Homo sapiens: one gene and its partners. The protein of the gene in region 2 purifies or fractionates together with the protein of the main gene of each other region. This does not show direct contact. Each region holds a gene or a part of one and is shown on either strand. Other genes may lie near its edges.

The links.
Region 1: the proteins of EEA1 (region 2) and SEC16A purify together in Homo sapiens (affinity purification with mass spectrometry; one large-scale study listed by BioGRID and IntAct). This does not show direct contact.
Region 3: the proteins of EEA1 (region 2) and SMARCA1 purify together in Homo sapiens (affinity purification with mass spectrometry; one large-scale study listed by BioGRID and IntAct). This does not show direct contact.

Annotation. Positions count from the first base shown.
Region 1 is NC_000009.12:136,448,541-136,452,192, forward strand, and holds part of SEC16A (protein transport protein Sec16A), read right to left. Parts: intron 2,869-3,652; coding exon 2,716-2,868; intron 1-2,715. UniProt on the Homo sapiens protein: Acts as a molecular scaffold that plays a key role in the organization of the endoplasmic reticulum exit sites (ERES), also known as transitional endoplasmic reticulum (tER).
Region 2 is NC_000012.12:92,922,742-92,926,393, forward strand, and holds part of EEA1 (early endosome antigen 1), read right to left. Parts: intron 1-3,652. UniProt on the Homo sapiens protein: Binds phospholipid vesicles containing phosphatidylinositol 3-phosphate and participates in endosomal trafficking.
Region 3 is NC_000023.11:129,513,490-129,517,141, reverse strand, and holds part of SMARCA1 (SWI/SNF-related matrix-associated actin-dependent regulator of chromatin subfamily A member 1), read left to right. Parts: intron 1-644; coding exon 645-811; intron 812-1,147; coding exon 1,148-1,248; intron 1,249-1,354; coding exon 1,355-1,455; intron 1,456-3,652.

The DNA of each region.
Region 1 (3,652 bases), on a different chromosome or scaffold from region 2:
CAGAGACGCCAGGAGGATGGAGGTGGGGAGCAGATCCATAGAGACACCAGGATGGAGGTGGGGAGCAGATCCAGACACACCAGGAGGATGGAGGTGGGGAGCAGATCCACAGAGACACCAGGAGGATGGAGGTGGGGAGCAGATCCAGAGACACCAGGAGAATGGAGGTCGGGGGCAGATCCACAGAGACACCAGGAGGATGGAGGTGGGGGGCAGATCCACAGAGACACCAGGAGGATGGAGGTGGGGAGCAGATCCACAGAGACACCAGGAGGATGGAGGTGGGAAGCAGATCCAGAGACACCAGGAGGATGGAGGTGGGAGGGAACCGGGAGTTGTTTCGTTTCAAGGAGACAGAGTTTCTGTTTGGGAAGGTGAGACAGTTCTGGAGATGGATGGTGGTGATGGCAACACAACAGTGTGAATGTACTTGGTGCCACAGAACTGTGCACTCAGAAAATGGTAAAAATGTGCATTTTGTTCTGTGTATTTTACTGTCATTTAAATAGGTCAGAACAGTAACGTGCCTTCAGGAACTTTTTACGTCTAAACACTGACAAAGCTTCCGACGTCCTCCCCTTTGAGAAGTGGAAGGCGGGCTGTCCAAGTCAGTGTGTGTCGGAGGCAGATACAGCCCTCTGTGTTTCCCATGTGTGGAGAATTCGGTTATTAGGAAACTTTACTTTATTCTTCACATGATGCACTTCATTTTGGTTTGTTAGTTTTCTGAGACAGAGTCTCGCTCTGTCCCCCAGGCTGGAGTGCAATGGCGCGATCTCGGCGCACTGCAACCTCTGCCTCCCGGGTTCAAGTAGTTCTATGCCTCAACCTCCTGAGTAGCTGGGATTACAGGCACCCACCACCATGCATGGCTAATTTTTGTATTTTTAGTAGAGATGGGGTTTCACCATCTTGGCCACGCTGATCGTGAACTCCTGACCTCATGATCTGCTCGCCTCAGCATCCCAGAGTGCTGGGGTGACAGGCGTGAGCCGCCGCACCCTGACTCCCAGAATGCTGGGGTGACAGGCAGGAGCTGCTGCGCCCGGCCTCCCAGAGTGCTGGGGTGACAGGTGTGAGCCGCCATGCCCGGCCTGATGCACTTCACTTCTACTGAAGAAAGAGGAGAAGCCTCAGCAGCTACTACACACCCTCAATTCTGTTTCTCTGTGAGTTCTACTGGCCAGACAAGCTGTCCCGGGGAGGCCTGTGATAGCCTATGCACTGGAAACCTGCTCAAGTATCATGTTTTATCTCAGAGCTCACACAAATTTGGAATTAAATGTGTGTTTATTTTCAAGACAGCAGCCATAAAAGAAAAATCTGATCACTGAACTTTATTAAAATGAAGAATGATATTTTTCATAAAATACCATTACTAGGCCGGGCATGGTGGCTCACACCTGTAATCCCAGTACTTTGGGAGGCCAAGGCAGGCAGATCACTTGAGGTCAGGAGTTTGAGACCAGCCTGGCCAACATGGTGAAACCCCATCTCTACTAAAAATACAAAAAATTAGCTGGGAGTGGGGTGGGCACCTGTAATCCCAGCTACTGGAGAGGCTGAGGCAGGAGAATTGCTTGAACCTGGGAGGCGGAGGTTGCAGTGAGCCAAGATCATGCCAATGCACTCCAGCCTGGCTGACAGAGTGAGACCCTGTCTCAAAACAAACAAACAAACAAACAAACAAAAAACCATTACAAGTAAAAAGGCAATCTACAGATTGGGAGAAGATATCACAATAAATACACCTAACAGAGGACTTATATCCATAATACAGAAAGGACTCCTGCAAGTCCTGAAGAGAACACCATTAAAAATGGAAAGGAAAGCCAGGTGTGGTGGCTACACCTGCAGTCCCAGCTACGAGGCAGGAGGATCACTTGGGCCCAGGAGTTTGAGACCAGCCTGGGCAATAGTGAGACCCCATCTTTATGGGGGAAAAAAAAAACAACGGATAGAGACTTGAACAAGCACTGCCCCAAAAGAGTGGTGAGATGGTAACAGGGACACGAGAAGGTGCCCAGCGTCACACCTCGCTGTGGAGATGCAGAGGAAGACACAATGAGATGTCATCAGCCCCAGCACAATGGCTAAGTTAAAGAACCGGCACTGCCCAGTATTGGTGAAGATGAGGGATATCCAGGGCCCTTGTCCTCTGCTGCAGGATGTGTGACTTGGGGCAACCAACCATTTAGGACAACTGCTCAGCAGTGTCTCCTAAAGCTGAACACACGCTCATCCTGCGAGCTAAACCCTCAGCTCCTTGGCACGCACCTAAGAAAAACAAGCGCATTCGCCAATAGATAGGCAAGGAGGCTCCTGGGGCCTGACGGATCCCAGCCCCACACTGAAAGCAGTCCCAAAGTCCACGGCTGGGAGAAAGGATCTGTGAGCCGGCAGCAGGCACACACCACAGTGACAAAGCAGCGGCTGCCGTCTGGTCCCTTGCGGGTGGGTCTGACAGGTAGTGGCCAGAGGCGACCTCTGGGGGCCGGGCTGTGTCCCCATGCTGACCTGGGTGGGCTATTATCCTATTATCTGAAGGCACAAATACACAGACACCCATCATGCCGTGTGCACTGTAGACACTCGGCTGTTTGTATCAGGAGGCTATTTGCATGTGTGGTGAATTAAGAGGATGGCGCTCTGGGAAGCGTGCCTCCTGCCCAAACCCTCCCGGCCGCCAGGCGCACCGTGGGCAGGCTGTACTACCTTCTTAGGTTCCTTCGTTTCTTTCTTGGCTGCCTGTCCGGGTCTCTTTGTTTCGGGAGCGGGTGAGAGAGACAGAGGTGGCTGCGTGGGACCCGAGTCGGCACGATCCCACCCTGGGGGGGCCTCCGAGTCTGGCACCGTCCTCGAGGGGGTCTGTCGCAAGGAAATGCAGAACAGGCTCTCCTGGGGCTCCTCACAGGAACCGAAAGAGAGAGGGGGATGCAATTCCCCAGGCGTGTTTCCTAAATACATCACTGAGAGGCCGGATGACTCTGGTGACCAGAGGGAGGCAGGAAGGGGGCTGGGGAGAGCAGCCCCCTGACTGGGCCTCCCAGAGCCTCTACCTGGCCTGACTAGAGAAGAGCCAGCCGCACTTAATAAGCAGCTCCGTCTGGGAGCACTCAGCACTCAGAATGCAAATGAGGGCGTTCGATGGAGATTCCGGGCTGGAAGAAACGGAGTGTGAGCATGCACTGAGGGAAGACTGGCCAGAGGGGGGCGATGGGTGTTCTCAAAGATACAATGATTTTTAAAAATATTTATTCCTGGGTCAAGTCCCAATTTTTAATAGCTCAACCCTCATTTTTACTTTTCCAGGGACACAGTATTTTAAAGGGTAAAACACCTAATGCAAGTTCAAACTATAGCAATCGCCTACTGATGGGATGCCCGTGAAGGGCTGGGTATCTGTAAAGAAGGTTCCAGAATGCGGTCTGTATAAAAGCAACCATCCCTCCTGGTTAGGAGTAGAGCAAACAGAGGAGGTATTTATACCAAACATGTCTAATGAGATAAATCTCACTTTCAGGAAAACCAGTGACAATGTTAGAAATTCTACTGAATTCCAGGACATCCTCTTGTGAGATCAAAAAATTAGAAAAGAAATTCTACTGTAGAAAAAGAGACGGCCGGGCTGGGCGGGGTGGCTCATGCCTGT
Region 2 (3,652 bases):
CAGGAGTTTGAGACCAGCCTGGCCAACATAGTGAAACCCCATCTCTACTAAAAATACAAAAAAAAAATTAGCTGGGAGTGGTGGCGGGCACCTGTAATCCCAGCTACTCAGGAGGCTGAGGCAGGAGAATTGCTTGAACCCGGGAGGCAGAGGTTGCAGTGAGCTGAGATTGCACCATTACACTTCAGCCTGGCCAACAAGAGCAAAACTCCACCTCAAAAATAAAATAAAATAAAATAAAATAAAATAAAATAAAGATTACCTGGGAGAAATATTTTTGGAGGGTTTTTCCTTATTACAGATTTGATAACTTTAAAATTCTCTGGCCGGGCGCGGTGGCTCACGCCTGTAATCCCAGCACTTTGGGAGGCTGAGGCAGGCAGATCACGAGGTCAGGAGATCGAGACCATCCTGGCTAACACAGTGAAACCCTGTCTCTACTAAAAATACAAAAAAATTAGCCAGGCACGGTGGTGGGCGCCTGTAGTCCCAGCTACTCGGGAGGCTGAGGCAGGAGAATGGCGTGAACCCGGGAGGCGGAGCTTGTAGTGAGCCGAGATTGCGCCACTGCACTCCAGCCTGGGCGACAGAGCGAGACTCCGTCTCAAAACAAAAAAAAAAATTTTCTGTGGCTCCTTACTGTCTACAGTATAAGGTCCAAAACCCTTCAAGCTACCTGTTGCAAACATCCCATCCACATCCAGAAATACGCACAATCCCCCTACTCTATACTAAACTATATCATGCTCTTGGATTTGTCTGGTTCCTATCTCTAAAATGCCCTTCTGTCCTTTTTCCCTCCTTGCCTGAGTCACTGCCATCCTCTGCAAAGACTTCCACAATCTCTATTCCTTGCCCTCCCCTACCACACCCCCTCTCCACCACATAGTTACTTTTTCTTTTGTGCTTACAAACTTTTCCTCTGTGTATCTATTACACTTATCACATTGTTTTGTAATTATTTATCTGTCTCCTCCATTAAAACTCAGCAGGTTTTTTTTTTACTCTCAAGAGTGTTTTGCACAGTAGTTAGCACAAAATAAATATTCGGTAGTACATAAAATGAATGTACCTATGTTCTAAGTCCTCATCTACCTCATCTACAAAAAAAAAAAAAAAAAATGGAGATTAGAAAAATAAAGGAAGTGATAAGAAAAGTGTTCCTTAAAGAAATTTGGAGTTTATAATTATAATAACACTGAAACACCATTTTAAAAAAATCAGCCAGGTGTGGTAGTTCACACCTATAATCCCAGCTATTCCTGAGGCTGAGGCAGGAGGGCCACTTGAGCCCAGGAGGCAGGGGCTGCAGTGAACGTGACGGTGTCACTGTGTCACTGCACTCCATCCTGGCTGACAGAGCAAGACCCTGTTTCAAAAAAGAAAAAAATAAGAAAAGAAAGTTAAACACCAAAAACAACAACAAAACACCAACATTAGCAGCAGCTAACATTTAAGACTTTTTTTTTTTTTTTTTTTTTTTGGGATGGAGTTTTGCTTGTTGCCCAGGCTGGAGAGTGCAATGGCACAATCTCGGCTCACTGCAATCTCAGCCTCCCAGGTTCAAGCAGTTCCCCTGCCTCAGCTTCCCTAATAGCTGGGATTACAGGTGCCCGCCACCACGCCCAGCTAATTTTTTCTATTTTTAGTAGAGACGGGGTTTCACTATGTTGGCCAGGCTGGTCTCAAACTCCTGACCTCAGGTGATCCACCCACCTCAGCCTCCCAAAGTGCTGGGATTACAGGCATGAGCCACCGCGCCTGGCTGAGACTTTTATACATATTAGTTATCTAGTTCTCAACTTTATAAGGAGGCTAGTATTATTACAACTATTTTACTGAGACACAGAGAAGTAACTTCTCCAAAACTACACAGATAGTAAATGAAACAGGATACAAACCCAGGTAGTCTGGCATCAGAGTTCATGTTCTTAACTACTAAATTACATTATTTCTTTAGCTCAAGCAAAAGGCCACTGGAATTAGAGAAGAAAATTGAGTACTAGCCCTGGTTCTTTTCATTTCTTAACGTCTTCTTTATTCTTAGTTCTAGTCCTGGTTCTTTAATATCTTAATCTCTTCTTTATTCCTAACATGCTAAAAAAAAAAAAAAAAAAAAAAAAAACTACTCAAAAAGAAAATCATTCCATTAGCTGTCACTTTTTAAAATTCACTTCAATAAATTAGCAATACTTTCATCAAACTTAGATGGGCAACTAATCTGGGAAGCCTTCCCAACATCTAAAACCAGGGCCCTCTTGCTGGGTGTTCTTGGGGCATCCTGAGTTTGTCCTTCCTAGAACTCATTCAAGAGTATAGTTGTATGAATCTCTGAACAATTCCTCTCTCTTCCACTGGACGCTAAACTCCACAAAAAATTCATGACTACTTTACCCATCATTGTCTGCACAGCACACAGTTGGCCCACAAAAGATGTCTCAAAAAAAAAAAAAAAAACACTAATCACAGTTTTTTTGTTTTGTTTTGTTTTGTTTTTAACACAGGGTCTCACTCTGTTGCTGGAGTGCAGTGGCACGATCTTGGCTCACTGCAACCTCTGCCTCCCAGGTTCAAGCAATTCTCCCACCTCAGTCTCCCAAGTAGTTGGGACTACAGGCGTGCACCACGATGCCCGGCTAATTTTTGTATTTTTTGGTAGTGACGGGGTTTCACCACATTGACCAAGCTGGTCTCGAACTCCTGATCTCAGTGATCTGCACGCCTCGGCTTCCCAAAGTGATGGAATTACAGGCATGAGCCACTAAGCCAGCCCACAGTAAGTTATAATACTTAAGAAAGAAATGGCAACAAGGTTTACAAGCTGCCTAAGGTACTAAACGTTGATTAAATTTCTAACCATCAAGTACTTTAAATTCATGTTTTTCTTTGAAGGACTATTAAGTAAAATATTCAATACATACATATTGGAGCTACTTCACTTTGGTTTTGTTTTGAGGTTTTTTTGTTTTTGTTTTCCAGCTTCTTTCAAGCCTCAGAGAAACACCTTAGTAAGCTAATGAAAAAGGAGGAGCAGGAGGAGGGACAAAAGCAGGAGAACCAGAAACCAAATTTCCGTAAAGTATCCTGAGACTTATTGATGATGTTCAAACACTTTGAGTTCTAATTGATGGTAAGCAGTTTGTCTGTTTCTTCTTTTAAAAAATGCTATTTAAAGGAAACTATTCAGAAGAAAATAAGAATAGTTAAAATGAAAAGTTCATCTAAAAACAAAATGCTAAAGGAATGCCACATAATTTTTTTTTTTTTTTTAGACGGAGTTCCGGTCTTGTTGCTCAGGCTGGAGTGCAATGGAGCAATCTCAGCTCACTGCAATCTCCACCTCCCGGGTTCAAGTGATTCTCCTACCTCAGCCTCCTGAGTCGCTGGGATTATAGGCATGCACCACCACTCCCGGCTAATTTTGTATTTTTAGTAGAGTCAGGGTTTCTCCATGTTGGTCAGGCTGGTCTCGAACTCCCGACCTCAGGTGATCCGCCCGTCTCGGCCTCCCAAAGTGCTGGGATTACAGGAATGAGCCACTGCACCCAGCCAAGGAATGCCACATAATTTCAAAGCACAGAGTCCATTTCAAATAAATCTCTAAATTAACAATAGCTTTAATCTTATAGCTTAATATCTGTGCTGAGAAATA
Region 3 (3,652 bases), on a different chromosome or scaffold from region 2:
TGCTTACTTTGGGGAGAAAGTTTATACGCTACTAGCACAAAATACAGTTTTCTAGATCCCTGTGAGTGAAGAGAGGAGTGTTTATTACATTACTATACCATGACACTGAAAATATTTTGAGACAAGATGATACTGTATTTTAAGATTTAAGTTATTTCTGGATACAACTTGGAAATTCTTAAGAGTTCAGTTTATGGTATATATATCATAGTTAATTTATATTTCAATATTTGGGATATGTTATATATTTGATGCTTAATTTTGTTACTATTTTATTTAATAAAATGATGTTTTGGAAAGAGGATTTGCTTTATGATTATGACTCTTTAAGAAGGGTATTTCTTATTGGGGAATTTACTGTCTGTCAGATAATTTTTCTTCCCTTCAAACTATTTGAAAATACATTTTCAAATTCTGCTGCTTATTAGCTGTGCAAGGTTGGGCAAATTACTTACCCTCTCTGTGCTTCAGTATCATGTAGTTACAATGGAGATGATACTTGTAATTACGTCATAGGTTTCTTAAGAGAATTGAATGGATTAATGTTTCAAGTGCTAAGAATGTTGTTCAAAGTAAGTATTTGTTAAATAACTTTGAAGGAATGAAAAGGAAAGTCCTTACTTTTCTTTTGTTTTGCAAATTAGAAAGCCGACCGAGCAAAGAGATTTGAATTTTTACTGAAGCAGACAGAACTTTTTGCACATTTCATTCAGCCTTCAGCACAGAAATCTCCAACATCTCCACTGAACATGAAATTGGGACGTCCCCGAATAAAGAAAGATGAAAAGCAGAGCTTAATTTCTGCTGGAGAGTATGTTGGCACCTCTCTCTCTACTTTCTTTCCTTTCTCCTACCTTTTCTTCCTCCTGTCCTCCCTTGATCCCTTCATGCACCCCTTCGCTCTTCATTGTTCAGTATACCTTCATGTGACAAAAAATATTGCCATTATAATTATGTTTTGAAGACAACTATATTTTTTTCTCACTAGAGGCTGATCAGTAAAAATGTAGGCTGGTTCTACTGATTTCTAAGCAAGACCTTGGACAACTCATTCTTTTTCTATAAAAGATAATAGCCATGTACACTGATTTAATTGATACCTTATCATTTAGGTCGAATATGAAGGGATTTCCTTTTTTAATTTCAGCTACCGCCATAGGCGCACAGAGCAAGAAGAAGATGAAGAGCTACTGTCTGAGAGTCGGAAAACATCTAATGTGTGTATTAGATTTGAGGTGTCACCTTCATGTAAGTACTTCATCACATTGGTGAGTTCTTTTTCAATTTAGTTTTAGAAAAATTTTACTTGAGTATGTTAATGAAAGTATGAAATGTCCTTGCATTTTTTCACCAGATGTGAAAGGGGGGCCACTGAGAGATTATCAGATTCGAGGACTGAATTGGTTGATCTCTTTATATGAAAATGGAGTCAATGGCATTTTGGCTGATGAAATGGTAAGGAATTGGTAGCTAAAAACACATTCTCAGTTATCAATGATTTTTATGTAAATTTGAAAAACCTGAGCTTACCTGCCCCCCTGATGCCTGGAGGCTTTTTAAAAGTTGTTATCATGTAAAAGGTATTTTGTAGTCTTAGAATTATTATTATTTTTTTGAGAGAGGATCTCTTTGTGTTTCCAGGCTTGAGTGCAGTGGTGCAATCTCGGCTCACTGTACCCTCGACTTCCTGGGTTCAAGCGATCCTCCTGCCTCAGCCTCCTGAGTAGCTGCGACTCCAGGCACGTGCCCACCACACTGGGCTAATTTTTATTTTTATTTTTAGTAGAGACAGGTCTCGCCACGTCACCCACACTGATTTTGAACTCCTGGGCTCAAGCAGTCCTCCCACCTCGACCTCCCGAAGTGTTGGGATTACAGGTGTGAGCCACAGCACCCAGCTAGAATTGTTTCGTTAAGTCACCGCTAGAACACAGACTTTCACAGGCCATAAAACTCTTACTGAGCTTTCCTCAAATGGTCCAAAAACCTTCTCTGTACTTTTGTTTTTGTTTGCATTTTGGCTTCCAGGAAGCACAGAGTCAAGATGGATGCCCAAATGATGCCTTTATGTAACTTTTTTTTTAAAATTTTTTGAGATGGAGTCTCGCTCTGTCACCCAGACTGGAGTGCAGTGGCACGATCTCAGCTCACTGCCACCTCCACCTCCCAGGTTCAAGCAATTCTCTGTCTCAGTCTCCTGAATAGCTGGGGTTACAGGCGCCTGCCACCACGTCCGGCTAATTTTTTTGTATTTTTAGTAGAGATGGGGTTTCACCGTTTTGGCCAGGCTGGTCTTGAACTCCTGACCTTGTGATCCACCTGCTTCGGCCTCCCAGAGTGCTGGGATTACAGGTGTGAGCCACCCCCACCCTGGCCTTATGTAACCTTTAATGGTCTGCCCTGTGTGTCCTTCTGTCTTTTCCTATTCTTTATCTACTTGTCTTTCTTACTTTCCTTGTCGTCTCTTTATTTCTATTTTGCCATTAATTTATGTTCCATGTTTTCATTGTAGGCTACCTGAAATCCTTTTGGGAATAAGGTGGGGTATACAAACCAAACAATATGTAAATGACTGCCTGAATATATGCATGTGTGAATGATTATCAATATTTTGACTTGTGAACAATCAAAAAGTGCATAGGTGGAATAAGGAACGAATAAAGAGTAATGTTGAATCTTGATACAGTACAGTGCATGGTGGGGCTTTGGAAATCAGTGAAGGAGTTATAAATGTGTAAATAAAATAACTGAACAGGAAAAAGTAAGGCATATAAGATGCTAATTCATCAGCTAAAGGGGGAATACATGAAGGCTTTTTTTTTTTTGAGACGGAGTCTCGCTCTGTCGCCCAGGCTGGAGTGCAGTGGCATGATCTCGGCTCACTGCAATCTCCTCCTTCTGGGTTCATGCCATTCTCCTGCCTCAGCCTCCCGAGTAGCTGGGACTACAGGCGCCCGCCACCGCGCCCAGCTAATTTTTTGTATTTTTTTAGTAGAGACGGGGTTTCACGATGGTCTCGATCTCCTGACCTCGTGATCCTCCCGCCTTGGCCTCCCAAAGTGCTGGGATTACAGGCGTGAGCCACTGTGCCTGGCCCCATATTTGTATTTTAAGACCAAATTAATAAAATGCGATTTAAGAGAGGGCAGGGAAAGTTCTAAATCCATATAACTCAATGATACTCATATTTATGTGACTCTGAAACCATACTTGTAATCACTATTATCCAGAAGAGCCACATGATGATACGTGCCCTATGGCGTCTAGTATAGTTGGTAGTCAGTCGCATAAGTACTCATCCCTGGTTGAGCAACTGTTAGGTGTGTGGCAGAGGATCCCTTAAAGCAAGGGTCTGTAGCTCCTTATATTTAGGTATTCTAGTTTGAAGACTGTTGTCAGCTCAGAGGGGGAGGAGCTTGGTTAATTGGACAATGGAAGGACCAGGATTATTTGCCCCAAGCAGCTCTTGGCTTCAGCCTGTCTAAACATGAAGGATCTGATCTTTAGTGATGAATTTGTGCTGATATCAGATATATGTATTATATATATAATATATAATATATAAATATATATAATATATACTTACTTTTTTTAATATATATATATAATTTTTTTTTGAGATGGAGTTTTGCTCTTGTTGTCCAGGCTGGAG